2 separate regions of the Homo sapiens genome follow, and region 1 is linked to region 2. Evidence: fine-mapped expression QTL. A gene starts in region 2. The other region holds a variant in brackets. All regions are shown on one strand. Distances are between the middles of the regions.

Region 1 (15,099 bases), 37 kb before region 2:
CATTAAAAAGGTTTGGGGTCAGATCAGCAGGGCCTTGAATAACAGGATAAATGGTTTGGCTGGAGGGACCCACAGCAGCAGGGCCTCTGAAGGCATCTTAGCAGGGTACTGCATTTTAATAATGGCGCTAACCCCTCAAAGGAGGATCAGGCAGGGGAGTCCAGCCCAAGCTGGGAGGCAGTGGGAGGGCCAAGGGAGAGACAGGTGGGGTTCAGGGTGCACCCTCAACCCAGTCTAAGGAGTGGGAAGGCAGGTGGCTGGGTGTCCAGGTCCTGCTGCTCAGCCAAGGGATGGAAGCCTGGATCAAGCTTTCCCCTTCCCTGCCAGCTAGCCATGGGCCCCAGAGTCAGCAGAAAATCCCGGCTCCAGGGAGGAGGCGGCGTGGAGCCAGAAGCTGCTGAGGGAGCACTGGCAGCAAGATGCCATTGTACATCCGCAATCAAGATGCTTCAGAGGAAATCAAAAGCACCAACCAGGGAAATGATGTGTGCACTCTCTTTCTCTCAAACACACATACAAACTTCTGCCTCCAAAATGGGTCAAGTGAAGGCTGTGGGCGTGGGTTGGGGAGGGAGGGCTGGGAGAAGTGGGGGCCTGGGAGCCCGGGAGCAGGCTGGGCCCTGGTGCCCACTCACCCTCCTGGCATAGGGGATGGCAGCAGCTGCAGGGTGGGGCGGGATGTGAGGATAAATATACACCTCCCATGCATATGGATCATGCTCACAGCTGCCCTGCTTGCTTAGTGTTCATTAGGACCAACTGTTTCAGGAGCAGTGGCAGGCGGGCGGGAGAGGGTGATGTACCCATTCACAGACTGGGGGTAGGGGGGCTGCCTGCAGCTGTGCAGATGCCTCCCCCACTGCCTGGATCAGCATCTCAGCCCCTGAATGCCCCTTCCTCCTGCTTTTTCTTCTTCCGACCTGCTGCTATGCCAGATCTGGAGGTCTCAGGGCGGGAAAGGGGCCTGGGGCATGAGTAAGGATGAAATCCAGGCTGCATCCCCATAGGAGCTGGGGAGAGTGAGGGAAGAGTTGGGCTGGATTGGATCCCTTGGTCCAGGATGGGCTGTTGTTTACAAACCAAAGCTTCTTATCCCCATCTTCCCAGAAGCCATCTGTAGCATTCCAGCAGGAAAACTGCTTTGGCACTGTCCCCTGGAGACTCGAGGGAAGCCCCATTCCTATGTGACAACCCTAGACCAGGCTTGCTCTGTGCCTCCAAAGGGAATCCAAGGGGGCTGAGGTTGGTGGACCAGCATCATTCTGCAGGATTCTGACGTCCTGGCAGCAAGGAGGGCTAGGGAAGGAGAATGCTGGGCTCCAGCCCGGGACCAGGTGCTCTAGGTGGGCCTGGGCCTGGGCTGGGGAACAGTGCTGAAATGTAGGCCCAGGGAAGGGTCTGGCTGGTGTCACAGGCAGGGCCAAGTGTAGCTGTACAGCTTGTGCCCTACCCAAGGGAACTGGCTGAGGGGCCTGCAGCTGGTGCCACGCCTTGTACTCTGGTGTGGGGCATAATCTCCCACATGAGTCAGTGGTGGCCTGGGTGACAGGCCTCTCTAGTGTTAGGAATGTGGCCAAGAGGGCCTGCCTGTGGACGGAGCCCGTGTGTCTCCTATGGTGAGCTCTTTCTCCTCCTGCTCCAGCGGTCTTGGGGGGCTCCTAGGGCTGTGCCTCCAGGGGGCTGGCACAGGGGCTTCTGAGTCCTGGGTGGAAGTGGAGGCAGCTGATCCCAGGCCAAAGCCCCAACTACAACAGCCTCCCCAGGCCCTTTCCTTGGTTGTAAGGGTGGGGCTGGGCACCTCCTGCCCCCTCTACTGGTGGCATCCAGAGCAGCAGCTGACTCTGGGACCCCAGGGCAGGGTCTTCTGGATCCTGAAAACAGGGTGAGTGGCAAAAAGCGAGGGCCGCCTCTCACCTACCTCCCTGGGGTGGCATCATGGAATAAAATGGGCTTTCAGCAAGTGGGCTGGCGGGAATCACAGTCAAGCCATTTCCTAGCTGTGTGACTCTGGGCAAGTGACTTAACCTTTGTGAGCCTTGGTTTCATCATCTGGGAACTAGGGACAGTAAACGGCTATCTTGTAGGGCTAATCAAAGGATGAGACCCACTAATGACTCAAAGGAGAAGCAGTTGGCTTAGCTAAATGGGATTCTGACCCCAACCCTGTACCTCTCAGCTTCAGGTATCCAAGCAAATTCTCCCTGCCCCCTCCTGGACACAGCTTGCTTTCTGCAGTTCTGTCATTAATATTTCATTTCTTTAGCAAAGGCTTTTTGTCCCTGGGACACTGCTATTCGCTCTGGAGAAGAAACTGTTCCGTGTTCCTTCGTGCAGAAGGATTCCTTAGCTCCTTTTCTGAGAGCAGAGCATTAGGAGCCAAAAGCAAACAGGTATTGTGGTATAAATTTGGGACCCAGCAGTGAAATAGGCCTGAGTTCAAATCCTGACTGTGCCCAGTTCTTCCTGTGCGATCATGGGCGAGTGATTCAAATTCTATGAGCCCCATCCTCATACTGTGAATGACAATACCTACAGTTAACAGTGTCTTTGCGAGGATTAAATAAGGTAACTGTGAAGTACCTGGTGCAAGTGGCTACCTCCTTAACTCTTTCCCCCGGTTCTGACACTGTGGGGGACTGGTTGTTGGCTGCACTTCCACGCCTGTGTGTGGTTGGTTCTGGACACACACACACACCAGTGCTGGACCAGCAGAATGACTGCAGGGAGCCAGGGCTCTCTTTCTCTCCTCCCTGCCCCTGCTCCTGGTGGCTGCAGCTTCTCTGTGTTCTGCAGTGTTGGAAAAGGAAATTACAGAACAGATTGCAATTAAGGGGGATGAGGGGGAGACAGGGACAGAGGCCGTGAGATGCAGCTTGACTGAGCACTAAACTGTGTTTGCGCCTGGAGCCAATCAGGAGCCTCTGATAAGAGCCTTTCCCACTTACAAAGCTAAGCAGGAGGTGTGGTTGGGGTGGCCCTGGGAGTCCCGAAGGGAGGGGGCTGCTGGCCTTGAAAGTCACAGAGCCACATGGGAGGGAAGGTGGGAGGTAGAGGTCTTAGGGGCCTTGGAAAGCCTGGACTCCAGACTTTCTGCCAGCTGTTATATTTGCTACCATTGATTTAGCACCTACTACTCACTGTACGGACATCTCATCTCATCCTCTTGACAACTGTGCAGCATGATTATTGCCCAATTTTGAAGATAAGAAACTGAGGGCCAGGCACGGTGGCTCACGCCTATAATCCCAGCACTTTGGGAGGCCAAAGCACGTGGATCACCTGAGGTCAGGAGTTCAAGACCAGCCTAGTCAATATGGTGAAACCCCATCTCTACGAAAAATACAAAAATTAGCTGGGGATGGTGGCACATGCCTGTAATCCCAGCTATTCGGGAGGCTGAGGCAGGAGAATCGCTTGAACCTGGAAGGTGGAGGTTGCAGTGAGCCGAGATCGTGCCACTGAATTCCAGTCTGGGCAGAAGAGCGAAACTCCGTCTCCAAAAAAAAAAAGAAAAGAAAAAGAAACTGAGGCATGGAATGTTCCTTCTATGTGCTAGGTATTGTCCTAGATCTAGGCACTTTGTTTACATGAGATCTCTTTTAAATCTCCCTGTGCTGACCTAGTCAACATGAAAATGCTGGGATTATGGGCATAAGCCACCGCACCCAGCCACACTTTTTAATTGCACTGCGCTGTCCCTTTTTTGGGCAGGGAGTGCTGGGAAGGGTTTTGCCAGCTTTATCAAAACAAAACCAAAAAGCTAGGATGGCCAGTTAAATTTGAATTTAAGGTAAACAATGCATTTTTCTAATGTTATACTGATGTCCCAAATATTGCATGGGATATACTTGAATTAAAAACTATTCATTGTTTATCTGAAATTCAAGTTTAACTGAATGTTCTGTAATGTATCTGGCAACCCTAATTCTTCTTTCTCCTGCTTCCAGCTACCAGCTAGTTCTGCCCACAGCTTGCTCTTTAAAGGCCGGGCGCAGTGGCCCACGCCTGTAATCCCAGCACTTTGGGAGGCCGAGGTGGGCAGATCACGAGGTCAGGAGATTGAGACCATCCTGGCTAACACGGTGAAACCCCATCTCTACTAAAAATACAAAAAAACCCCAAAAGTTAGCCGGCGTGGTGACAGACGCCTGTAGTCCCAGCTACTAGGGAGGCTGAGGTGGGAGAATGGCATGAACCCGGGAGGCGGAGCTTGCAGTGAGCTGAGATTGCGCCACTGCACTCCAGCCTGGGCGACAGAGCGAGACTGTCTCAAAAAAAAAAAAAAAAAATTAGCCAGACATGGTGGTACATGCCTCTAGTCCCAGCCACTTGGGAGGCTGAGTTGGGAGGATGGCCTGAGCCCAGGAGGTTGAGGCTGCAGTGAGTTGTGACTGTGCCACTGCACTCCAGCCTGGGTGACAGAGCGAAGTCCTGTCTCAAAAACACAAAACACACACACACACACACAAATGGTGAGGCCCTTTGGGACCAGCTGTGCTGCTGTGTCTCTAGCCTGCTGAAGGGACAACGAACTCTTCTGCTCCAGAGGGCAGAGCCCGGGACAGCTGCCAACTCTGCACCTTCCATGTAACACTGGGCAGGTCTGTTCCCTCTCGGAACCCTCTGTAAATGGAAGATCCAGTATTAGGTACTATGTAACTGCAAGTCTCCCTGAAGGCCCTAACTTTGCTAATTATTTCTTCTCCCTTTTTCCTGTCTGTTGGGCTGGACTTGGCCAAGGATGAAACCCAGTCTATGGTTGTGCTGTGTGAGCAGAGGACACCCAACACCTGGGGCAGGGAACCCAGGGGAGCAGTGCTTGTCAGAGGCTGAGGGGAGGAGGCTGGGCAGAAGTAGCACTCAGAGGCTGGGGGGGCTGAGGCTGCTGGGAGATGAGCCATTGACAAATTTTTTTTTTTTTTTTTTTTTTGCAATGGAGTTTTCTCCTGTTGCCCAGGCTGGAGTGCAATGGCACGATCTCAGCTCACTGCAACCTCTGACTCCTGGGTTCAAGCAATTCTCCTGCCTCAGCCTCCCAAGCAGCTGGGATTACAGGCACGTGCCACCACGCCCGGCTAATTTTGTATTTTTAGTAGAGACGGGATTTCACCATGTTGGTCAGGCTCGTCTTGAACTCCTGACTTCAGGAGATCTACCTGCCTTGGCCTCTGAAAGTGCTGGGATTACAGGCGTGATCCGGCCTTGCCATTGACTGTTTTTGTTCTCCAGAGGCGGCAGCTTGCTGAGCATTGAGACCCAGGCTCCAGGCCCCACCTGCACTTAAAGGCTCTGTGATTTCAGGCAAATTCCTTAACTGGGGCAAATGTCTCAATGTCCTCTGCTGCAAAGGGGGACTAATGCTCACCACGATGTATCTGAAGTGCCCGGCACGTAGGAGGGGCTTAATGAAGGGCTATTATTGCTATTGTTGGTATCCTATTTTATATATATATCCTTCTGGAAAAAACCTCTTGAAGAAAGCTAACCCCTGAAAGGACAAACACATTTCAGGCCCTCTCTGAGCTTCAGCAAAGAACACAACACATTCCAGGCTGCCTTCGTTCCAGCTAAATTTTATTTGTCGGATTTTTGACAGACGTCTAAATTATACATTGAGTTTTCCACATGACCAAACACCACATCTCTTCCTTTGATTATCATTTTCAAAAGGGATTATAAAAAAAGAACCTTTTGATGGATCAGACTGAACCCTGAAACCACATGGAGTGCAGAGCTAAAAATAAAAGGAAGTAAGAACTGGTCCCCGAGAAGGAAAGGAAAGGGAAATCAAAGCAAACTCTGACGGGAATGGAGAGACGAGTCCTGGTGAGGGTGACATGGTGTCACCCTCCAGGCCAGGCCGGATAAGGAGCGGCCAACAGTGAGGGTGGGGCGCAGAGTGGCACAAAAATAGCCACTACTTTAGTCCAGAGGGGAATAAAGAAATTTGTCAAAAGCAAGGAGAGAGAAGTGGAGACGGAGGGAGGGAGGAAGGAAGGGGGCAGGACCATGTCCTCCCAGCAGCCGTGGGAGCTGCGGACTCCTTTAACCCTGGCACATTTCTAACCGCCGGCATAATCGCTGACTTTCAGCTGTGCACCGACATGTTCCCCAGCTCAGCCCACATCAATGACACCCTTGTTTCCATAGTAACCAAGGGAGAGTGAAGGGGAAAGGGTGTGTTGCACTGGGTGCAGGGAATCCAGCCAAAAGCAGCCACACGGGGTAGGTCGGGAGGAGGGGAGGACTCGAGTTTTTCCCACAACTGGCTTGAGCACATATCACGAGCACCCCCCAGGCCTTGCCTGCCCTCCGGCCCCCAGCCCTCTCCCCCGCACATTCAGATGCAATTGTGCGCAGGGCAAAAGTCTCGCTAAGACTCACTGGGGACAGGAGGAGGGGAAAAGGGGTCTTCCCTTTCCAGCTTCAAATTCTGTCTTCTGGTCAGGGGGCAGGAGTGGGCAGGGAAGAGGCAAGAGGGCTTTAAAAAGTATTTTGTTTTTAAATGGGAGCTTTCAAACTCTGCCTTTTTCAGGCTTCTCTCATCTACCCCAGAGCCCCAGGAGGGTTCAAAAGGGCTCAAAGGGAAGATGAAAGCGTGTGACATCTGCAGTGTCTCTGTGTCTCTGCAGCTGAGAGCAAATCAGAACATTTACAGAGGCCGTTATCAGAGGAGTGGCTTCTGCCTGCTAGGAGAGGCCTTGGGATGGCTCTTTAAAACAGTCCCCTAAGTTGGTGGTAAAAGAACAAAAATATTTTACAGACCCTCCAATGCCAAAGTTCCATACTGCAGTGTTCCAAAATTGCAGACCTCCAAGCAGGCATTTTGCCCCTCAGATAACTTGTCCCTGCTGAACTATTCGGAAGAAAAAACAATTTGCAAGTGCTAGAGCCACATTTGCAGCCTGGTAGAAGGGGGATTTCTGATTCCTTATAATTCTGTGTTGCCTCTGTAAGGGAGAGCTTGGGTGAGCCAGAGAAGCCAGTGGAGGAGGCTGCAGAGAGCAGCTAGCTCTGAGGTTAAAAAAACCCCTCACTTTCTTTTGTTTTGCAAGTCCTTACAGGTCTGTCCACAGCAACTCTGGGGCACCTTTTCACGGCTGGCTTTGTTAATGACTTTCATGTCAGATCGCTTTTGAAGCTGGCTATGCCTCAGTCTCTGCTGCACTCTTAGCCAGAAGCAGCTGGGTATTGAGGGCCAGGGGCTGCAGCGGCCCCTTCAGTCTGCTCACACGCCCTGATGGGCTTGGGAAGGGCCACCTCCCAGGATGAGAAGGCAGCTGGCCCCCAGGGACCCACCAGTCACTGGACAGTCTCTTATTCATTCTCTGAAAACCCCTGAGCTCAGGCACCAGAACAGAGTTTAATTCAGGAGCCGGGCAATGCTCTGGCCTGTTTCCCCATGTTTGAAGCTGAGGATTTCTGAGGTTCAGGGAAACAAGCTCGTTTTGCAACGAGGGGCAGGAGAAATGTTCTGCTATTCCTCTCCAATCAATCAACAGAGGACGGACATTCTGCTGCAGAGAGGCAGAGGAGCCCAGCAGCTGGGGTGACTCTTGATTCCTTGGACACGACCCCTGCAGTCACACACACACCCATGTCCTCCCCAGCAGCAAACCCTCTCCATCCAGGAGCATCCCACACCACCAAGTTGCCAGCACTGTAAAAATTGATCTAAAAATCGATCTGCCTGGCTTTTCTCAGTGGAGCAGGTTCATGGTAAAGCTGCATTTATTTCTAAAATCTGATAGCAGCGGCCTATTGTGATCGTTTAAACACAGAATTCTTTGAGCTTTAGAAATCCTGTCTATAGGACGGCCGTGGAGAAGCCAGCTAATCTCAGAGTCGGCTGCTCACTGCTCCACTGAGCTGGAGAAAGCCTGTTTACGCTAGCCTGAGCCCTCGATGTGAGAGCTTTTTAAGGACCTTGTAATTTTTCTGGAATTAAACCTCCCACCTCTCCTTACATTCCAGATGTCATTACAGTCAAAAGTCATAAGAATTTGCTTCTCTGTGTGGCTGGCTGGGGCAGAGGCAGGGGTGGGTGGGATGGGGTATGTTTCTGTAGTGACTTGTCTGCAAGAAAGACTTTTTTTTTTTTTTCTGTCCAAAGAGTGAGGATTACATACGTAGTCTCCGACCTGCAAGACGATGAGATGGTTTAATTATCTGCCTTTTCTCCCCCCACCCCCACCCAGCAGCTTCCTGTCGGACAGACTGAAGCCTGGCTGGGCTAGTGACGGTAAAAATCACTGACAGCACCAGCAAACACTGTCTGTGGTTTCAAAACCATGGAGGGAATGCAAGGGACGGGTCAGTAAATAAATGAACTCAGCAAAGCTGCTTCTTCCTCTTTTTCTTTTTCTTTTTTTTTTTTTGAGAGGAAAAAAAAGCCCACTGGAATTGTCTAAACTGCAATGCAATCTCTTGCTCATTTAAAAGATCTCATTTTCTAATCATGTGCTTTGAGACATTTAATACTATTTCAATTATGCAGAGGAAATAATATAATTCCTTTATTTGAAAAATGATACTGAACCTCAGAGATCAGTTAAATCTACTGCTGGAATGGGGATTCTTTCTAAACCGTGTTGTTCCCTCTCTTCAAACAGCTGGAGCTGTACACAGATGGAAAAACATTTGGTCAGAAAGCAGCAAATTAGTGTTTTTCAGGACCGAATTCGGCTCCCGCAGCTCCTGCATCTCCATT[C/T]GTCTAGATTTTATTTCTTCTTTGCATTGACATTTTTGCAGACCCAGTTCATGCCATCCTTTGAGGGAAATGGGCAGAGAAAGGCAGTGTTAGTTATAAGAAAAGCACCACACACTCTAGCCTGGAGGGGCGGGCAGTGGGGGTCCCAGGCCCTCCCTCCCAGACCGCCAGCTTTAGGGAGTTTGCTTGGCTCAGGGGCCCACCTGGGTGACCAGGGACAGTGACCTCCCAGGAGGAGGAGGAGGGAGGTCTCTGAGAGCACAAGAGGGCGATGGGAGGGGGATGCCCAGCGCCTGAACTTGAGATGGGTCCTCAGGAACTCCCTCTGAAAAAATAAACACATCTGCCTGCATCCAAAGCCTGACTGAAGAGCTATCAGGAAAGATTCCAGCCATTTTTGGCTTTTTCTAAAAGGTGACCTTTGCCAGGGCATTAAATTCAATAAGCCACCCTTTTGGTGCCCCATGTGTTTACAGTGTGACAGTGTACACTTGGGTTAAATTAAATTTCTTTTTGGAAAAACAAACCTACTGCAGTGAGTGTTGCGAGGCACACACCAGGGCGATGTGCATTTACTTCTCTTCCTGCAGCACTCCAGATAGGTTTAAAAGGGTCTGGCCCGCTTCTTATAGCTTTAAGCACCAGCATCCAGAGGGACTGGGGAGAAGGTTCCCTTAAAGGCACAATGACCTTGAAAGCGCCCTCTCTTAGAAGGCTGAAGAGGGACCAAGGTAAAAATCACACAATGCCTACAGCTACCTGGCAGGCAGCATAATTCCTACGGATGCCAGGCCTGTCAGAGGTGAACTCCTTCCCAACCCCCTTTGGAGCCAAACCTGGACACTCTCCCCTTCCCTAGAGTCTCCCCAACCTTCAAGAGTGTGTGGAGTTCCCTCAGAAGCCCTGAACAAAATCCAAGGCAGCTGCTGCCATGAGTCCTTCCCCTTGCATCTGTAACAGAGGCTCACGGAGGTCCCAGCTACATCTGCACACATCAGCCATACTGGACATGCCACCGAGTCCCACATTTCCTGTGGCCATGGATCTAGCTGCCGAACCTGAACAGCTGAGACAGCTTACAGTAATAAATATCAGCTGACACCCTTGGCCATTCGGAACATTAATCCCATAAACAATACATCACTGCAAAAAAACAACCAGCAGGCATCCTCTCTCCTGGCTCATCTGACCGTCACCTGAATTTACAGTGATTACAACTCTGCCAGTTGCTGTCAGTGCACTTGGGCAGCAGAACTAGATAATCTGACGGCTGTCCCAGAGCCGACATCTGACCTTTGCCAAGATGAGGCCGGTGGCGCCGAAAGCCCGAAGGTGGACAGCACCTGGCAGCAGCAGGGGGAAGGGCAGAGGAATGCCGAGGTGGGAGAAATGAGGACTCCAAACGCATCTCTAATTACAATGGGGTCAGCTACTTACTCTGAGAAGCTAAGGCCAATTTTAAGACCATTTTATGAAAAGGATTAATTTAAAGAGAAGCATGTTTAATTTTAGTAGCTAATTGGTTTCCAGGAAAAAAAAAAGATCACCTGTCAAGAGACAAAAAAGATTTTACAAATAAAAGAGGGATGAATAAGATAAGCATCTTCTCTCGCCTGGGAAGCTGAATAGCTCAGCACTTACATAGCACTTTCCACCTTCAGGGGCTCACACAAACACTCAAAGGTGGGCACCTCAACACTCTCTCCTCTACGGAGGCTCGCACTCAAACCATCTTCTCAGAGAAATCAAGGACAGTGTGCCCACACTATGTGAATAGCGCTTTGCCTTTTCCTTGCTTTATGGCTGATTAAGGAGAGATTATTGCATATAACTGAACATGAATGCAGGCAAAGAGATAGGAAAAATATTTACTCAGCTGCAGGAGCCCAAAGCAGAAGGTGGAGGGTGTGGGGTGGTTTTATGCCGGGTCTCTGTTATGGAGGCAAAGGAGGGTTCAAACGGCAGAGCCCTGCTGAGGGACAGTGTCTGGTGTCTCCAGGTGCCTGTGAGGGCCAGCAGTGGTGAAGCCCTTCTAGCCACTGTCCTGCCAACAGAGGGCGCACAGAGGCCAGTCCCTGCCAGCTGACCCCCGGCCTGGGCCCCTGCAGCTGCCGCTGCAACCCTGAGTGTGGGAAGCACAGGGAGCGTAAACAGGGGACCGAGCCCTGTGGCTGCCCTGGGCCCGGGAGGCCCCTCTAATCTGAAGCGGCTAGTGCTTGGGGAGTGGCATCTTTCTTGTGCTGGGCAGAAGAGAACTGGGCTGGAGGTGGGAGGGGAGGGAAGGGGAGGCATTGGCCAACAATGGTACCTCCTCAATCACGTGGCCATGGATCTAGCTGGGGCAAGCTTTGTCAATCACATCAGGGCAAGCTTTGTCAAGCTGCCTCCTGGAAAGGAAAGGCAATGGTGGTGCCCAAGCTCCCCTAGGGGAGGCTCCCATCAGACTTGCTGGAGATTATATTCCCAGAACCTAACATGATGTCTAGCCCACAGCCCACTTAATTCACATCTTTTAAGTCAATCCTTGTAGAAGCCTGCAAAGTAGGTGCTGGTGTTATTTCTCTATCACAGCTGAGGAGATGAAGGCACAGGACAGAGCAGGGCAATGGCAAGCTGTGGTGCCCAGCGTGGTGCTCCAGAGCTGCTTACCAGTTCTCCACGGATGTGGGTACCTGCCGGGTGAAGGGTTCTGCCCCAAGCTTAAAGAGGAGCTGGGAAGCACCCTGAAGATGGGAAAAGGAGGAATTCTGGTTTTATCCTCCTTGTGACTTCCGCTAAAAACAGGGGCCTGAGACTGGAGTAGCCCCAGCCAAGCCTCCCTGCAGCTCCGATAGTGCCAGAGGTTGTTATGGGCCATTCAGTTCTCAAGATTCCTGGGCTGTGGGTATCTGTATATGCAGAGGCCTGGTTATCTGCCTGGCTGCACAATCCTCACATATTAACCATCCACCCAGACCACCTCCTCCAGTGGAAATGCTACATTTAGAGAAAACATACTTGCAAGAGGAGGAACCTTCTGCTTCTTATGTTTAAATAAATGTTCCATACCACTCTTGCTTTCACCTGGCAAGGAAGGCTTTTTTTTTGAGACGGAGTCTTGCTCTGTCGCCCAGGCTGGAGTGCAGTGGCATGATCTCGACTCGCTGCAAGCTCCGCCTCATGCCATTCTCCTGCCTCAGCCTCCCAAGTAGCTGGGACTACAGGCGCCCGCCACCATGCCCGACTAATATTTTTGTATTTTTAGTAGAGACAGCGTTTCACCATGTTAGCCAGGATGGTCTCGATCTCCTGATCTTGTGATCCACCCACCTCAGTCTCCCAAAGTGCTGGGATTACAGGCGTGAGCCACTGCACCTGGCCGAATCTTTATTGTTAAAAACTGGTTTGACCAATTTTCTGTACATTTGATCTTCATTATGGGGATGACGATCTTACGGTATGAATAGTCCTCCCTTCCTTCCTTCCCTGGACCCTCCCCTGACCAATCTTGCTGAAACTGAATTTGAATTGATTAGCTTCAATTCAATAACAGAGACTAAAGAGAGACATGGAATTTCAAATACTGAGCTTTGTTTGGCCTCCTAGAGAGGAAATAAAGTTTCCTATGTCACAATATTATTCTCCCCTATAACCACTGGGAGAAACAGCAGGCCACCCCTAAGCATACAGGGGAAACTCACTCCTCCCAAATCTCTGCATCCCAGAAGTTAAGGTGCACTGCTTCTTTCCAAGGGAAGAGTGGTCTCTGACTATGCTGCTCTCTTAAATTTGATCTCTGTACATTGCATCCATCACTGCTCGGTAGCTGGAAGGAAGCGGTGGCAGCCATGGCTGTGTGGGCCTGGTTTTTAGAGCCATGCTGGTTACGTGGTCACAGCAGTAATTGCTTTAAGATGATGAGGTGCTCGGACCCTTGCTGAGCAATGCAGCCTACCTCATTGTGCCATCAGGCCCCCAGGGTCAAGAAGCAGCTGGATGCTGCTTCCATCAAATATGGCTCGCTATTAGTAGTTTTTTTTTCTGGTGACAAAGGGCATTGCACCAGAAAGGTAGTGAAATCGCATGTCCTGAGACTGCTTTCTTAGTCTCCAGAAAAGTTTGAAAATTTAAAAATAAACCTGAGGTCTGACTCACAGATAAGCAGTTCCATATACACCTGGAGTCAACAATAACTGATGCCAGGCCTAGAAAGAAGTGGTAAATTTTGTTTTTCAAAATATCAGGCCAGGCGTGGTGGCTCACGCCTGTAATCCCAGCACTTTGGGAGGCTGAGGCAGGCGGATCACCTGAGGTCAGGAGTTCGAGACCAGCCTGGCCAACATGGTGAAACCTCGTTGCTACTAAAAAAAATACAAAAAATTAGCCAGGCGTGGTGGTGGGCATCTGTAATCCCAGCTACTCGGGAGGCTGAGGCAGGAGAATCGCTTGAACCCAGGAGGTGGAGGTTGCAGTGAGCCAAGGTTGTGCCATCGCATTCCAGCCTGGGCAAGAAGAGCGAAACTCCATCTCAAAAAAAAAAAAAAAATTAAAATTCTGTGGCATATTAGGGACAAGTCCCCCAAATCAAGGAAAAAGAAGCAAAACCAAGAAATGGGCGAGTGAGCATTTAGTGTTCCTCTGGAGGCTGACTCAGGCACGGATCACAGCTCGGCGCTCGGACTGCTCATGGCCCCTTTTGTGGACACAAGGCAACTGAAAGCCTATGTGACCTGCTCATGGCTCCTGTCTCCAGGAGGAGGAGAGGAACGTGGGGCAGACATCACAAGAAAAGGTGAGCATGAGGGGGTGGCCTGGAGAGCAGCACCCAGGGCACGATCTGCTGGCTTAAGGTTATGGGAGGAGGCAAGTCTCCGTGGTGACCATGGCTAGAGGTCAGGTTAAAACTTCGGATCTCTGCTTTGAGAGGAAATTCAAAGCCAGTATCATTTTAATTACACATACCACACACACATGCACACTCAGAGTATTTTAGAGAGAAAATGTCTTCAAATGCCTGGAACTGTAACAGCAGAAAGAGCTGTGGTTTGGGGTTCAAGTTCAGGTCTGTGGGTGGAGGAGGGATGGATTTCTCGATACCTTTCTCTGGCTCTAAGCCAGATCCTTTGTTCACTATTTTCTAGACACCCAAGGAGGGAAAAAAAAGACTGAGAGTCCCAGTGCAGAATGTTTCATCCTAGGAGGGGCCCTGGCAACCTGGGCCTGACCTCGAGGGCGCAGAGTGACACTTCCTCCATGTTGATAATGGAGTCTGGCTTCGGTTCTCCCTCCCAGACATTTTTCAGTTTCTCCTCTTTCCGCTTTCATCCACTTGACATAACTGGGTCTCTCCTCATCACTCCCCTGGACAGTGGGCCTCTTGGCACAACAGAGTTTCTGAGATTGATGATCTCCTTCTGCTTCTCGTGCCCTTTACCTACTCTCTGCTCCTGATGGTCTCCCGTGAAAACCTGCTTTAATCATACAATGGGCTGGCTTCCCAGTCAGCACCAATGAGGAAAAGAAACCCCGGTTCCATCCTCTCTCAAAAGTCAGTTTCCACACCTGAAGCAGAGGCTGGTGAACAACACGTGGTACTTCCCACCCCTGTAATGGCTTCGTATGTGCTGCCTTCAGGACACCAGGTGGAACGGGACCCTGAAATCCATCCCAGGAATCACTAACTTCCATAGTCTCAAATCATGTGTTTAAGCTACTCCACTAATGAGAAGTGATGTACCTGCCCTACTTCATCCACAGAGGGGCGTGGCTTGCCATCTAGCAGCTCCATGGCTGTTTCCTTAACTCGCCCCCGTGAGGCTACCTATTGTTAAGCAGTACAAGACAGGTCTCTTAAATATGTTTTGATTAAACATGTACGATGTATGTGTCTGTCTTTAAACACTTGAAACTGCAACAGAAATTCCAGGTCCTTTTTTTATTTTTAAACCTTTGTACATTTTCTTTCAGAGTTGTTAGAATCAGATGTCACCTGACTTGCCTATTCAGTGCCTAATCATTTGGGCCAGCTTTTGGGGAGGTGGGGTGGGGTAGGGAGGAAAAAAACAGGAATTTAGGGCATTTCAGTAATTATTGCACAGTTTTCACGTTTGAAAGTGAACCTCAAACCATTCGATCTTTATTGATATTTTTCTAGTAAAGTCTTTCAGTTTTAGAATATTTTTAGCCCTAATAAATAAAAATTACTAAAGGCCTGTACTTCAACTAAGCAATGCTGGAAAGGAATTCCACTTAAGTGACTCTTTTTAAGGCAAAAACCAGGAAGCTGGTGTGTGGACAAGAGCTTGGGTCAGAGGCACCACCTTAGGGAGGTACACGGTCAACCAGTGGCTCACAGTGAAAAGCGCTTCCACAGCAAAACTCCATGACCTTTCTCTAGTCCCCAAAGGTTA
Region 2 (15,099 bases):
ACAAAACTTGGAAGTGGACAAAACTGTATTTCCCATTTTGTCTTTCACATTGCTATTATCGTCTTCCTGTGTCACACGGCATCTGGAGCCAAGGCAGTGCTCACCTGTGTAGGTGTGATGTGGCTGATGTCTTCAGATGCAAGCTGCTTCAGAAGAGTGGTCTTGCCAGCATTATCCAAGCCCAGGAGAAGTATTCTCACCTCCTGGTCTGGTGCACTTTTCAACTTGCGCAAAATTGAGAGCAAGCCCTTCAACAACCACAAAGGAGACAGATTACTCTGGGGGCACTGACTGTGATATTAACTGGATATGAGAATAACTTCTCCTTGAAAAAAGTTATTGGTTATGGAGAGCTTATGTTATTATTTTTCATTCTAATGCCACTTATTCCATTTGCTTCCTCTTTCCAAGTTTCGGTAGAAGTGCTACAGTAAATTCAGCAACTTAATAAGTAGCAGGGCTTATTTCTGCTCCTCCAATCAATCTAGCTTAGCAGTCACCCCAAATCTCCTGGGAGTGTGAACTCTACCCCATCTGTGTTCCTAAAGCCCTTTACATACACTTAGAGCAGAACATTCATCATATCAAACTAGGTAACTGATGTTTGTATTTTTCTCCTTTACTAAAGTTTCTCGTGGTAAGGGCTATACTTGTCCCATAATGCCTGGCACTTATCAAACAGACACTAGATAACACTTGTGGAATTAAATAGGATGACACACCCAAGTTAACACACGATTTTAAGGTGTTATACAAAAATATATAAAAAGGCTATATAAAATTATAGTTGGGCTTCCTGTTAATGATTTTATCTATTTCATCATTTCACATTGCATGCCTGTATCAAAACATCTCATGTACCCTATAAATATATAACACCATGGACCCACAAAAATTAAAAGGAAAAAATTTTTAAAAAAGATTTTATCGCCGGGCACGGTGGCTCACATCTGTAATCCCAGCACTTTGGGAGGCCAAGGTGGGCGGATCACGAGGTCAGGAGATCGAGACCATCCTGGCTAACACGGTGAAACCCTGTCTCTACAAAAAATATAAAAAATTAGTCGGGCGTGGTGGCAGGCGCTTTGTAGTCCCACCTACTCGAAATGCTGAGGCAGGAGAATCGCTTGAACCTGGGAGGCGGAGGTTGCAGTGAGCCGATATTGCACACTGCACTCCAGCCTGGGTGACAGAGCAAGACTCCGTCTCAAAAAAAAAGATTTTATCTATTTCAGCACATCTTCAAGACTTCTTCATTCAAAATGTTCTACTATCATCTTTCACAAGACCCTACAGGATAGGTGCATGGTATAGATAATCTGTGTTTTTTAGATGAAAAATTTGGTACAACAGAGAAGTTAAGAAATCATAAAAGGCATCCATGAAGCAAAACAAAACAAAACAAAACAAAAACCCACCAAAATTAACCAAGGAATTTTTTACTGTTAATCTAATATTTCCCTCTGTCACCCAGGCTGGAGTGCAGTGGTGCAATCTCGGCTCAACTACAACCTCTGTCTCCTGGGTTCAAGCAATTCTTGTGCCTCAGCCTCCAGAGTAGCTGGTATTACAGGCATGTGCCACCATGCCTAGCTAATTTTTATATTTTTAGTAGAGATGGGGTTTCGCCATGTTAGCCAGGCTGGTCTTGAACTCCTGGCCTCCAGCGATCAGCCCACCTTGGCCTCCCAAAGTGCTGGGATTACAGGCCATGAGCCACCTCTCCTGGCCATTATTTATTATTTTTTATGGATAGAAATATAAAGCATGTTGCTGGGCATGGTGGCTCACGCCTATAATCCCAGCACTTTGGGAGGCCAAGGCAGGAGGGCTGCTTGAGCCCAGGAGTTCAAGACCAGCCCTGGCAACATAGTGAGACCCTGTCCCTACAAAAAATAAAAAACAAATAAGCCAGGCATGGTGGCGCAGGCCTGTGGTCCCAGCTACTCAGGAAGCTGAGGTGAGAGAATTGCTAGAGCCTGGGAGGTCGAGATTGCAGTAAGCTGTATTTGTACCACTGCACTCCAGCCTGGGTGACAGAGTGAGACTCTGTCTCAAAAAGAAAAAAAAAGAAAAAAGAAAAAGAAAACAAAGAAAAAATAAATAAACCATGTTGATTTTTAGTTAAGAACATAAGAACATCTTTATAGGAAAGTTATTTGTTCTGTGCTATAGCTGATAATCTTGTTCTAACGACACATGGCTAGAACAAGAGTCAAAGAATCCCAGAGTTTAAAGGGCATATAATTTAATCTCCCAGCCCAAGAAGAAATTCCTTCAAACTGAGTCTTAGAATTATGCAAAATGGTTGTATTTGTTATTCACATTGTACCAGGCAATAATTCAAACCAGTTTGTTCACTAAGATCAAAGGATACTTCTGAGAAATAATTCTCAACAACTGCATCTTTGGACAATCATACGCAAATATGCATAATTATTAAGAATTCCTTTCTGCCTCAGAGACTCTTTGTTTACCACTTCTAGTACTGTATCTGTACTGACTTGCTAAGGACCACATTAACCTTTCTATGCCTCAATTTTTTCCAGCAGTAAGATGGAAGGTTTAGTCTAAGCTAGACAAATTCTATGCCAAAAGATTTGGGGGACAGAGATTGAATAGATTGGAAACAAACAGAAGTCTGGCTTTTTAAAAGGCCAGACTTTTTTTTCCTTTTTCTTTTTTTTGGGGGGACAGGGTCTTCCTCTGTGGCCTAGGCTGGAATGTAGTGGCGTGAACACGGCTAACTGCAGCTTCGACTCCCTGGGCTCAAGCGATCCTCCCACCTCAGCCTCTCCAGTAGCTGGGACTACCGGCTCACACCACCACGCCCCACTAAGTTTTGTATTTTTTGTAGAGATGGGGTTTTGCCATGTTGCCCAGGCTGGTCTTGAACTCCTAAGCTCAAGCGATCCACCCAAAGGCAAGATTTTTTTTTTTGCTGTTTTTATCTCATCTGGTCTTGAATACTTTGACAGCATTCCTTCTTAAAACTATATTTACAAGAAGTCTCCCTGGTTTCTATTAGCTATATTGCAATCACTCATTTATAATATCACCTTTCAGAAAAGTAAAAATTAAAATTCTGAGATCCTTAGGGGACTGGTGACATAAAAAGGCTAAGAGGAAAACCCATTTTACTACTCATCCTGAGTTCCTGATTGTAAGTGAAAAGAAGAGGTCTCATTACCTCTTAAAATAAATTATAAAACATCTGGAATTTATCAAATTAGTACATTAAATGACACAGGCAAAGTTCTTCTCATGCATTTTCTGCTTAGTGCAGAAATTATGAAGGAAGATCTGTTTCCTATTTTAAAAAAAATTTTTTTTGGCCGGGTGTGGTGGCTCACACCTGTAATTCCAGCACTTTGGGAGGCCGAGGTGGGTGGATCACTTGAGGTCAGGAGTTCGAGACCAGCCTGGCCAACATGGCGAAATCCCGTATCTACTAAAAATACAAAATTAGCCGGGTATGGTGGCACATGCCTGTAATCCCAGCTACTTGGGAAGCTGAGGCAGGAGAATTGCTTAAACCCAGGAGGTAGAGGTTGCAGTGAGCCAAGATCATGCCTCTGCACTCCAGCCTGGACAACAAAAGTGAAACTCCATCTCAAAACAAAAACAAAAAATAAAACCATATATTATATATATATATATATATATATTTTTTTTTTTTTTGAGACAAGGTCTCACTCCTAATGCCAGGCTGGAGTACAGTGGTGAAATCATGGTTCACTACAGCTTCAGCCTCCCAGGCTCAGGTGATCCTTCCACCTCAGCCTCCGGAGTAGCTGGGACTATAGATGTGTACAACCGCACCCAGCTAATTTTGTGTATTTTTAGTAGAGACAGGGTTTCACTATGTTGCCCAAGCTAGTCTCAAACTCCTGGCCTTAGGCAATCTGCCCGTGACGGCCTCCCAAAGTGCTGGGATTACAAGAGTGAGCCACTGCACCCGGCCTATAAAATATTTTCAAAGTTTAAAATTAATGTTTTGGGTTTTTCCTCATGTGTCTCTTTTAAAGAAGTTACTAAAAATACTGTTTTTTTTTTCAGGCAGAGACTTGCTCCACACTCATTACATTTGATATTAAAGAATTAAGAGAAAAACAAGGCCAGGCACAGTGGTTCACACCTGTAATACCAGTGCTTTGGGAGGCTGAGGCAGGAGGATAGCTCAAGGCCAGGAATTCAAGATCAGCCTGGGCAACAAACACGAGACACATATCCCTACCAAAAAAAAAAAAAAAAAATTATCCAGGTGTGGTGGTGTGCACCTGCGGTTCCAGCTACTCAGGAGGCTGAGACAGAAGGATGGCTTGAGCCCAAGAGTTTGAGGCTGCAGTGAACTATGGTCGGGCCACTGCATTATGGGCTAGGTGACAGAGCAAGACTCTGTCTCAAAAAAAAAAAAAAAAAAAAAGAGACAAACATAATGTTTATTCACCTTAAAAGGAGAGGAGCAAAGCACAGATAAGAAAGAAAAAGAAATCATTCTAACTATAAGGCTGAGTGCAGTGGCTCATGCCTGTAATCCCAGCACTTCGGGAGGCTGAGGCTGGCGGATCATTTGAGGCCAGGAGTTTGAGACCAACCTGGCCAACATGGTGAAACCCTGCCTCTACTAAAAATACAAAAAATTGGCCAGGCATGGTGGTGGGCACCTATATTCCCAGCTACTTGGGAGGCTGAGGCAGGAGAATCGCTTGAACCTGCGAGGTGGAGGTTGCAGTGAGCCGAGATCACACCAGTGTACTCCAGCCTGGGCCACAGAGCTAGACTGTTTCAAAAAAAAAAAAAATTCTAACTATAGATAAACTTTATTAACCTAATGGTGTAGAATACAGTGCTTCTACATTTCTAATGAGTAATTTTCCTTATTAGGAAATAATAACTTCAGATACTTCACCTTTGAGTGAAATTACAGAGAAATGCAAAGTTCAGCTAATGTTTTCTTCCAGCAAAATGATAAATGGCATTTCAAGCATGGTCTAGGGAAGACAAGTGCAAATATAATACAGCATCATATTAATCCAACTACTGAGGATGGGATCACAGGATTATCAGGGTTTGCTAAATAGGGAAGAGGATATTTATAGAGATCAGGGTTCTGCCTGAAAGGTACAAAGTAAGCTGATTTAAGAGGCTGGATGAAAGAGACCAGAATAAGTCTATTCTGTGCATCTATACATATATGCCCATATTTTATTTTAACTGTCAAATGAAGGGAGACAGCGATTAGAAGTTAAATTTATCATAGGGCTGAGTTTTGCAGTATAAATACAATGACATTAATTTTTAAAGTGCATTTTTTGGCCAAAATATCCATTCACGCAATTATCATTAAACACCCTTAATGTGCCCCAAGTACAACAGTGAGCAAAACGGGCATGATCTCTATGTAGGATTTATATTCCTGTGACATTAAATAAAACAATTTAAGAAACATGAACTTCAGTTAAAAGTATATTGTGTGTTACCAGCATGTGTGTATACAAGTTATCTACACCCTGGTGGGCAGAAGTGGTCTGACTCAACCACAAAACATTTAAACAAACTTTTCTACAGTCAAATCATGAATAGATGTGCTATGGACTACAGACGTTTTATCTGCCTCGAAATCAGCTTAAACTACTGGCAGAGGCATGGTGCCCTGACCTAAAACAATACAAACTAGGTCATTCAAAGAAACCAGAGTGGTGGAGGGAGAAGGAATGCGTTGGTATATGGAAAATATATGTGGTTGTGAGGACCAGCTAAAATTTGAATTCTGAAATTACGAAGCCAACAGTCAAGTACATACGGTCCCCATAACTAGCTTAAATATAACTGACTTCCATTTGTTTTTACGTCTTTCAACTGAACTCCTATCAGCTTAAAGCTCAAAATTGAGAACTTAATCCAAACTGTGTCTTCTTTCTCATCACCCTCTCCTAAATAAATACAAACAATGTTTCCTAAGGAACAAAGTCTGAGCATCTCCTCAGGAAGAGTGGGTTCCCACTTCACCAGAGTCCTAATGAAATGAATGTTATGGGCTTTAGAATTTCACAGACTTGTATTCAGCTTCTGTGTGTGTGTGTGTGTGTGTGTATATATATATATATATGTATGTATATGTATCTGTATATATATATGTATATATATGTATGTGTGTGTGTGTTTTTATATATATATATGTATATACATAACACTGCACACAGTTTCAGCTAGAAAATAGGAACAGGCCGGGCGCGGTGGCTCACGCCTGTAATCCCGGCACTTTGGGAGGCCGAGGCGGGCGGATCACGAGGTCAGGAGATACAGACCATCCTGGCTAACATGGTGAAACCCCGTCTCTACTAAAAACACACACACACAAAATTAGCCGGGCGTGGTGGCGGGCGCCCATAGTCCCATCTGCTGCGGAGGCTAAGGCAGGAGAATGGCGTGAACCCGGGAGGCGGAGCTTGCAGTGAACGGAGATCGCGCCACTGCACTCCAGTCTGGGTGACAGAGCAAGACTCCGTCTCAAAAAAAGAAAAAAAAAAGAAGAAAACAGGAACAATACTTACATCTCAAGAGATGATGCTATGAGGATGAAATGAGGTCATGTATGTAAAGCATGACACATAACAGCCACTGAAAAGACTACCCTCGTGTTTTGTTTATTTTTTTAAAATAATTTTTCACGGGCCATTTTCTAACCAGAAAACATAAGTAACTGTTGGGAACAATCTTCAAATGTTGAACATGCTTGAGAACGACCACAAGCTCCATATATGTAGAAAGTGCTCCATAAATAATTACTGAATGAAGGAATCATATGTTAAATATAAGTGGTTAGTTACGTGCTAAAATTACTGTCATTTTAGTATTTTAGTAATTCATCAAGAACCTGGCACTGTAAAGCAGGGGTAAAATAGCTGACTCTAAATGTTCAGAGAAACCCATATTTGGGTTTTTGCCACAGTTACCCAAATTTGAAAAAAAATATGTATTTGTCACAGCTGAAGTTTAAAACAAAAACCAAAAAAACCTTGGGGTTCACGCTTCAGTTGTACAGTTAACCATGGGGGCTCATGGGATACCAGATGGGATACACTTAAGTCACACGACTGACTAAATTCAGTGTTTCACTTCAAGTTTTAAGAACAGCTCACGCTTGTGGAGATAGAAAAAAAATGTTTTTGGGAAACCAGATAAAGAATCCGGAATAATTTGTCTTAATTTCTTATTGTTCATCTTAGGAAAAAGGAAAAAAGAAAAACAAAATCTGTTTTCATCATTGAACACAACAGTTGTATACAACAGTGTTGTATATACACTGTAAATTTGTTGTATACTGTGCCAATTTGCACCTGGAAACATGGGCAGTGGTTAATTTACTGTGGCCTGTAATTATAAATTAAACAATCATGGATTACACAGTACACTTAATTGATCAACAAACTGGGAAAAGTTAGCCAACTCTCATGCACTTCTCATCCATAATGATGAATCTCAATCTCTGTTGGTTCGGCATGCCCTTTTCATTCCAATTCTAGCTATTTTCTGGGTAAATATTTATGTTTGTACTCATTTGTTGAGAAAAACTTTAACTTTAAAAGGACAGCTCACGTATAAATGATTAAGAAAAAGAAACAGTTGTAAAAATCTGTTTAGCCTGAGGTTAAAAAAAAACTGCAAGTGTAGCAAGTGTGAAATGTGATTGGCAACTTCAGATCAAATAACCCTACTTCTTTAACAATCTGACAATGTAAAATCAATTGAGTTTTTTTTTTCCTTTCTAAATCTACTCACTGGATAATCTGACCAAACATACATCTATTTTTTTTTTTCCTGGGCATCTAGTTTTTTTGTTTTTTTTTTTACTTCTTAAATCAACAGAAATGGCTCAACATTTCTAAAAGTCAAGAAAGGAACTAGGAAGAGAGTTGGAGCAGTGACTATAAGTTTGATGACAGGCTCTTTGCAGCCAACTAACCTGCTTTAAGTGTTCAAAATCAATTTTTCTTTGATAGCTCTAAAATTACTCAATTCCATTTTAACTCCCTCCAACTAACTGTACAGACATTAACAAGAAACAGAGTGTCAACGGTCAGATCTGTCACAACCATAATTTAGAATTTGGGAAAGCTTTAATTGGGACTGACAGAGAAAAGCCTTGCCCCGGATTGAAGTTCGATCTCCATTTTTAACTTCTCGTTCTTTTCAGTTTGGAGAACTCAAGCTAGGATTAAGATCTTTTGGTCCTGGTATGGTCACACGCAAGAGGAGACTGCAAAAGGTTTCGAAGGAAATTCTAGAGACGGAGCAGCTAATATGTCTTCATCAACATGGATTATGTATTGAATGAAAAATCGGTCATCACCAACAATCAGATCCTGCAAAACTCTCAGCAAATAACTAAATAATTCGGGACTGAGGAAGCGCACCCGCCACGCAGACACCAAGACGGCGTAAAATCCACCAGGCATCCCTTCCAAGCGGCACCCCTTTGTGTCGTGGGACTTACTTCCCTACCCCCCAGGGGCCCGCACAGCGCGAGAAGGAGGAGAGCTAGGCTACCATCTCCCCTGCTACCGCCAGGGCGACCTCAGAGCCAATGGGGCCGGCCTTCTCTCCGCTTCTGGCCGGGCTCCAGACGAACCCCACTTTACTGCAAAGCCGCGAGACCGATTGCCCGGGAAGTCTAAGCCTGCTAGCGAAAGCTGCTCTCCGCAGTTCCTGGGATCCGCCCTCACCCCTGTCCCCAGAGTAATGATGGAGCCCGGGCTCCGCACCCGGCCAGCCGCGCACTCTGCCAGCCCCTTCCCCAAGCCTCGGACCCGCTGCAAGCCCCGCCTTCCTCTCCAGGCCCAGGCCTCCCTCCAGGGCCCACCCTCGGGTCTCCCCGCCGACCCCCGAAATCAGTCCACAACCCAGATAGCAGGCTGAGCGACGTCCCATTCCCTCCTTGGCTTTAAGCGCAGTGCTCCGCCCTGGGCCTGGGGACGGGAGGGGGATAACCGGCCGGCTCCAAGGGGGCCCAGGCCCCCACACTCACCATCCTCCCGCCGAGTCCCTCCTCCTCCTCCTCCTCCTGCTGCCTCCCCCGTTACCAGGGGCAACTGCTGCGGCGCCGCCCCCGACGTCCCTCGCACGCACAGCTGAGGAGCTGAGCAGCAATACGGGGCGGGGTGCAGCTCCGCTTTCCCCAGAGTGCGCAAGTGCGCTAAGGCGCCCGCCCACGCAGTGGGCGGGCTACGGGAGCTGCAGAGGCCGCCGCCGGCTCGCCTGGACCAGGGAGTGGAGAAAGCCTGCCCACGTGGCTGGCGGGAGCCTCCCGGCCTGGGATTGGTCGAAAAGGAGGGGCGTGGGGCGGGCGTGGGGGCAGTTCCCCAGCCCAGGTCCTCCTCTCACCCGGGCCAGTTTTCAAGGCGGGCTGTAACTGGTGGCATTTGTCCCGGGACCAGGTAAGGGGCCTTGGGACAATGGCGCTCGCCCTGTCTACCTCCAATCCCCACATCTCGGGTGGGTGCTGAGATTGCTGTCCTGACTGCCCAGGCGGGGCTGCAGCGCGGGCTGGACTTCCACCTGCAGAAGCCACGTGGCGCGAAGTGCGCCCTGGGGCTGCAGATGGGCCCCTCTGCTCTGACCCCCATTGCCTAGGAGTGCCAGGCCGAGCGGCTGGGGCGTTACGAGCTGTCCGGGATGGGGGAGTACCGATGGGGGGAGGCCGTCTGTCGGAGGGCAAGAAGCAGCCTGGGGGCTGGCCCTGAGCCCTGAGGTGAGCTGAAAGCACAGGTGAAAGGCGTTTTGGGGATCGGCCCGGTTTTTGTTTTGACACAGGGTGTCGCTCTGTCGCCCGGGCCGGAGTGCGGTGGCGCGATCTCGGCTCACTGCAGCCTTTGCCTCACAGGCTTAAGCGATTCTCCCGCCTCAGACTCTCGAGTAGCTGGGATTGCAGGCGGGCGCCACCACGCCTGGATAATTTTTTGTATTTTGTTTTTGTAGAGACGGAGTTTCGCCATGTTGCCCAGGCTGGGCTCGAACTCCTGGGGTCAAGCCATCCGCCCGCCTAGGCCTCCCAAAGTGCTGAGACTACAGGTGTTCCAAAGTGGTGAGCCACTGTGCCCAGCCTCTGGCCGGTTTTGCTAAGCTGCTTTGGACAGGACCGCGTACCATCTGTAGTCCTGGAGGAGGCAAAAATGAGCCTGCATTTTTAGCCAAGGAAGAGCAAGTGGGACACTGGGGTGGGTTGGGAAGTGCTACCTCCCATCCCTTTCCCGATGCAGAGGACTATAAGAAGAGTTTACACAAACGTGCTAGGCCCTGTTCTAGACGCTGGAGACACAGCAGTGGACAAAATCAGCCCGTATGGAAATTACATCCTTCCTAATGAAATACATTTCATACCAAATTTCATTTTCACAACCCCTAGAAATTGGTAATTGCGGCCAGGCGCAGTGGCTCATGCCTATAATCCCAGCACTTTGAGAGGTGGAAGGGGAGGAAGGCTTGAGCCCAGGAGTTGGAGACCAGCCCGGGCAACACAGTAGGACCCTGCCTCTACAAAAAAAAATTTTTTTTAATTAGCCAGGTTCCGTGGCGCACTTGTAGTCCTAGCTACTCGGGAGGTTGAGGCTGGAGGATTGCTTGAGCCCAGGAGCTATTATCACATCACTGTACTCCAGCCTGGGTGAAAGAGCAAGACCCTGCCTCAAAAAAAAAAAAAAAAATGAAAACAAAAATCAACATCTGCTGCTTGCATACCTGCTTCAGATCCTTGGAGAGAAAAAGCAGTTCAGAGCCTTGACTAAGGAGGTGATGAATGGAGGTGATACAGGAGCACAAACCCCTATAATCTACTCATCTCCAGACTGTTGGCCCTTTTGTGAAAAAGGCAAGGGAGGTTGCTCTTTCTAAGTTGTCTGGTGCCTAACAGCCCACTTGCCTTGGAGTCAGACGAGTACCCATAAGCCTATACCTGGGCCTGCTCTTGTAATTATTACCCTCATTTTCCAGCTTGCTCTAGGCAGCCTTGACCTTAATCCTTGCCTGTCTCAGTGGTCTTTGTGTCTGACCTTCTGGGGTCTTTGGCTACCTTGATCTTCCTCTGATGTGAGTACCAGCGATGATGTTTCGTTTTTCTCCCTACCTGGGGCTACAAACAGTAATCTTGTGCACTTCTGCTTGTAAGAGGATACCTCAGAAGGAATTTGGAAGCTTGTTTTCTGATCTCTGATACCATTTGCCAGAGAAAATCTGCTCTTTCTGGGAAGGATGAGCATTACGTCAGAGGTGGCAGTAGTCTATTACTTTTTTTTTCTCTTTGTTTCCCTCTCTTTCTTTCCTTTTTTTTTTTTTTTTTTTTTTTGAGATGGAGTTTCACTCTTATTGCCCAGGCTGGAGTGCAACGGTGCGATCTCGGCTCATCACAACCTCCACCTCTCGGGTTCAAACGATTCTCCTGCCTTAGCCTCCCAAGTAGCTGGGATTACAGGTATGCACCACCACGCCTGGCTAATTTTTTATTTTTAGTAGAGACGGGGGTTTCTCCATGTTGGTCAGGCTGGTCTTGAACTCTCAACCTCAGGTGATCTCTCTGCTTTGGGCTCTCAAAGTGTTGGGATTACAGGTGTGAGCCACCGTGCCAGGCCTCGGAGTTGGCAAGTAGGCTATAGTGGATAGAGGACCTTGGGGAAGTAAGGCCTTAGCTGTTGTCCAATCTTTGAGGACTGGATCTGTTGATTGTTCGTGTTTATATCTGCTGCAAGCGCTTAGTGCAGGGCCAAGTGTATCAAAAATGCCCACTGTGGTGGCCCAATCCATGTGCACCTTTCTAGGCTTCAGTTTCCTCTTCTGTAAACTGAGATCTTAGATCACATGTCTTCAGGCTATGACATTCTCTCTCTCTTTTTTTTTTTTTTTTTTTTTTGTGGAGACGGAGTCTCGCTCTGTCACCCAGACTGGAGTGCAGTGGTGCGATCTTGGCTCACTACAACCTCCGCCTCCCGGGTTCAAGCGATCCTCCTTCCTCAGCTTCCTGAGTAGCTAGGATTACAGGTGCGTGCCACCACGCCTGGCTAATTTTTTGTATTTTTAGTAGAGACAGAGTTTCACAGGGTTAGCCAGGATGGTCTCGATCTGACCTCGTGATCCGTCCGCCTCGGCCTCCTAAATTGCTGGGATTACAGGCGTGAGCCACTGCGCCCGGCCTCAAGCTGTGACATTCTCTAATCCTAGGAGGGAGATATCATTAAATCACTGGTCTGATTTTTACTCCTACTTTGTTCCTAGTAGTGGGACCATACAGAAGTGGGGCTACCCTGGACATGATGATGACCTTTTTAGGGAAGACTAGATGTGGCTTGTGTGGGAGGAGGGACAGTAACTGTAGAAGAAAATTTAGAGACCAGTATGACTTAGTACAGGCAAGGTAGACAGTTTTGCAACTTCATGAAAGAAAGCGTGCTCTTAATTCTGTAACCTAGGCAGGTTCTAAGTTTGACTTAAAAGAGGTGACATCCTTGATGCCAAGAGACCCAAGAAGAAGTTGGAATGCATTTCAGGTAAGCAGTAAATATTCTTCGAGGGCATGTGAAACATGTAGCAGTAAACATCACAGACATGATCCCGATGCTTGTGAGCCTTACAGTCTGTCAGGGGAGGCAGACTTTACACAAATCACAGTCAATGACAAGAAGGTGACAATCACAAACGCCCAGCATGCTGCAAAGGACAGGATGCTGTAGGAGTATATATCACAGAAGGATTTGAGTTTGTCCTGAAGGAGTCGGGGAAGAGTGCCCATTGGGGGACAGTGGGTGTGTGGGGGGAAATGTTCCAGACAGATCGTTTAGTGTTTTTTTTGTTTTGTTTTTGTTTTGGCTTTATGTTTTATTTAAGACAGGGACTCTGCAGTTTCTATCCTGACTTCAATTAAGAAGGCAAAGGCTCTTGCATAATTAGCAAATGTTTAGATTACCCCTTGATGATAGTCCCTCCATTCTGAGAAGCAGAGGACTTTGCAATGTTGTGTTAAGGTGAACAGAGATGTCAGAGAAGGTCTGGCTCTGTGTGTATGTGTGTGCTGAGGGGGAGGCATAGCATTTTGCTCAGTCAGGCTGTCTCCAGCATGTATGAGCCTGGGGCTCTGTAAGCCAAGGCAGCGTGTGTTCAGCCAGCCAAGCTGACTCCTTTTAGGTTCATGTAGAGCATGGGAAAGTGAACTCTTTCCCCTCCTCCCACTCTTGCTTCAGCTGGGACTGAGATAAATGCCTTTGGTCTTTGAAGCAGCCTGCAGGAGGCCAGGTGGCAGGGAGAGGGGAAGTCTGTTTTGGCAGTGGACTCTTTCTGTCTGCCTTCTGACTTCTCTGGAGATTGCCGCTTCAGAGAAGCATCGGGGCCAGGCCAGGGCGCTGTGGATACTCCATATTGAGCCTCTCCTCTTGTTCCTGGTCTTTCCTCTTAGGAAATGGCGTACCTCCAGCATATCAGCTTCCTGATGTCTCTTCCGCCTTAACGAAAAATCTAAAAATTGACCACTGCTCTTCCTTCCCCAACACTGTCCCTTCTGCCTCCTTTCTTGAACTTGAACTCCTGGCCTCCCAAAGTGCTGGGATTACAGGCCTGTGCCTGTCTCCACCTCCTTTCTCTCTTCTTTCTGGTGGTTCTTCCCATCTTTGGGGGCTTCCTTTTCTCGGCTTCTTTTTTTTTTTTTTTTTTTTTTTTGAGACAGGGTCTTGCTATGTTGCCAAGATGGAGTGCAGTGGCGCCATCTCGGCTCGCTGCAACCTTCACCTCCCGGGTTCAAGTGATTCTCCTGCCTCAGCCTCCCAAGTAGCTGGGATTACAGGCGCCTGCCACCACGCCCGGCTAATTTTTTGTATTTTTAGTAGAGACAGGGTTTCACCATGTTAGCCAGGCTGGTCTCAAACTCCTGACCTCGTGATCCGCCCGCCTCAGCCTTCCAAAGCACTGGGGTTACAGGCATGAGCCACCGTGCCCGGCCTCAGCTTCTTTTTTTTTGAGACAGAGTCTCACTCTGTTGCCCAGGCTGGAGTACAGTGGCACAATCTCGGCTCACTGCAACCTCCGCCTCCTGGGTTCAATCAATTCTTGTGCCTCAGCCTCCTGAATAGCTAGGATGATAGGTGCCTGCCACCACGCCCAGCTAATTTTTGTATTTTTTTTTTTTATTAGAGATGGGGTTTCACCATCTTGGCCAGCCTGGTCTCAAACCCCTGACCTCAGGTGATCCACCCGCCTCGGCCTCCCAAAGTGCTGGGATTACAGGTGTGAGCCACTGTGCCCGGCCTTGGCTTCTTAAATGTCCTGATTTTTCAGGGTTTGTCCTCAGCTCTCTCCTCTTCCCATTCTGTGTGTTCTCACTGGAAAACTTTATCGTAAATCACCTCGATGCTGCTGACTCAGTTTTTTCCTTCTAGCTCTGACCTCTGTTTCCTTTCAAGCCTGAATACCCACAGGCTGATGAACTTCTTATTCAGCAAATACTTGAATATTGTGCTAGGCACTGGGGTGACAGTCGTGAGCAAAATGAACATACCACCTCACTTCACAGGTGAATTATTTAACTTAGCTAAGGTGCTATTTCCAAGAAAAAAACAAAATGACCTAGTAGTAGAAGCTATAGAAGTAAATCTGAAAATTATTTGTACAAAAAAATAAAAGGACAAATAGGTACTATTTAGTGAAGAGAGGAAAGACTAGCTTTTGAGTATTGTGTTTGGAAAGGACCTGAGACAGGAAGAGGCCTATTGCATTTAAGAAAATCCCGGCCGGGCTTGGTGGCTCACGCCTGTAATCCCAACACTTGGGGAGGCCGACGCGGGTAATGGGTCACGAGGTCAGGAGATCGAGACCATCCTGGCTAACACGGTGAAACCGCGTCTCTACTAAAAATACAAACAATTAGCTGGGTGTGGTGGCACGCACCTGTAATCCCAGCTACTCAGGAGGCTGAGGCAGGAGAATTGCTTGAACCCAGGAGGTGGACGTTGCAGTGAGCCGAGATCGCACCACTGCACTCCAGTCTGGGTGACAGAGCAAGACTCCCTCTCAAAAAAAAAAAAAAAAAAAAAAAAAACCCATGGCAGGACCGGGGCTGGT

Which allele goes with the higher level. Alleles are on the strand shown, and positions count from the first base shown. SD is a standard deviation of normalised expression in the study named.
In carriers of allele C in region 1, the expression in skeletal muscle of the gene that starts at base 9,156 in region 2 tends to be higher than with T alone (moderate effect, 0.52 SD a copy in GTEx).

Evidence for each region. PIP is the estimated chance that this variant, and not a neighbour inherited with it, causes the effect.
Region 1: its variant is fine-mapped to the expression of ARL3 in skeletal muscle (GTEx, PIP 0.96).

Annotation. Positions count from the first base shown.
Region 1 is chr10:102,668,174-102,683,272 of GRCh38, forward strand. ARL3 (ARF like GTPase 3) reads right to left here. Exons shown (of 6, transcript NM_004311.4): 6 at 5,558-8,768. The coding sequence ends at 8,721. Among named protein-coding and RNA genes, the nearest start is that of TRIM8, 31 kb to the left of the region's middle. RefSeq lists enhancers at 922-1,524, 1,525-2,126, 2,127-2,728, 5,632-6,181. The variant C/T (reference allele first, on the strand shown) is at 8,711.
Region 2 is chr10:102,705,242-102,720,340 of GRCh38, forward strand. It overlaps ARL3 (ARF like GTPase 3), which reads right to left and starts at 9,156. Exons shown (of 6, transcript NM_004311.4): 1 at 9,032-9,156; 2 at 105-248. The coding sequence starts at 9,034. SFXN2 (sideroflexin 2) reads left to right here and starts at 9,395. Exons shown (of 12, transcript NM_178858.6): 1 at 9,395-9,440. RefSeq lists silencers at 8,816-8,915, 8,956-9,005, 9,073-9,467, 9,286-9,435 and enhancers at 9,221-9,797, 9,798-10,373.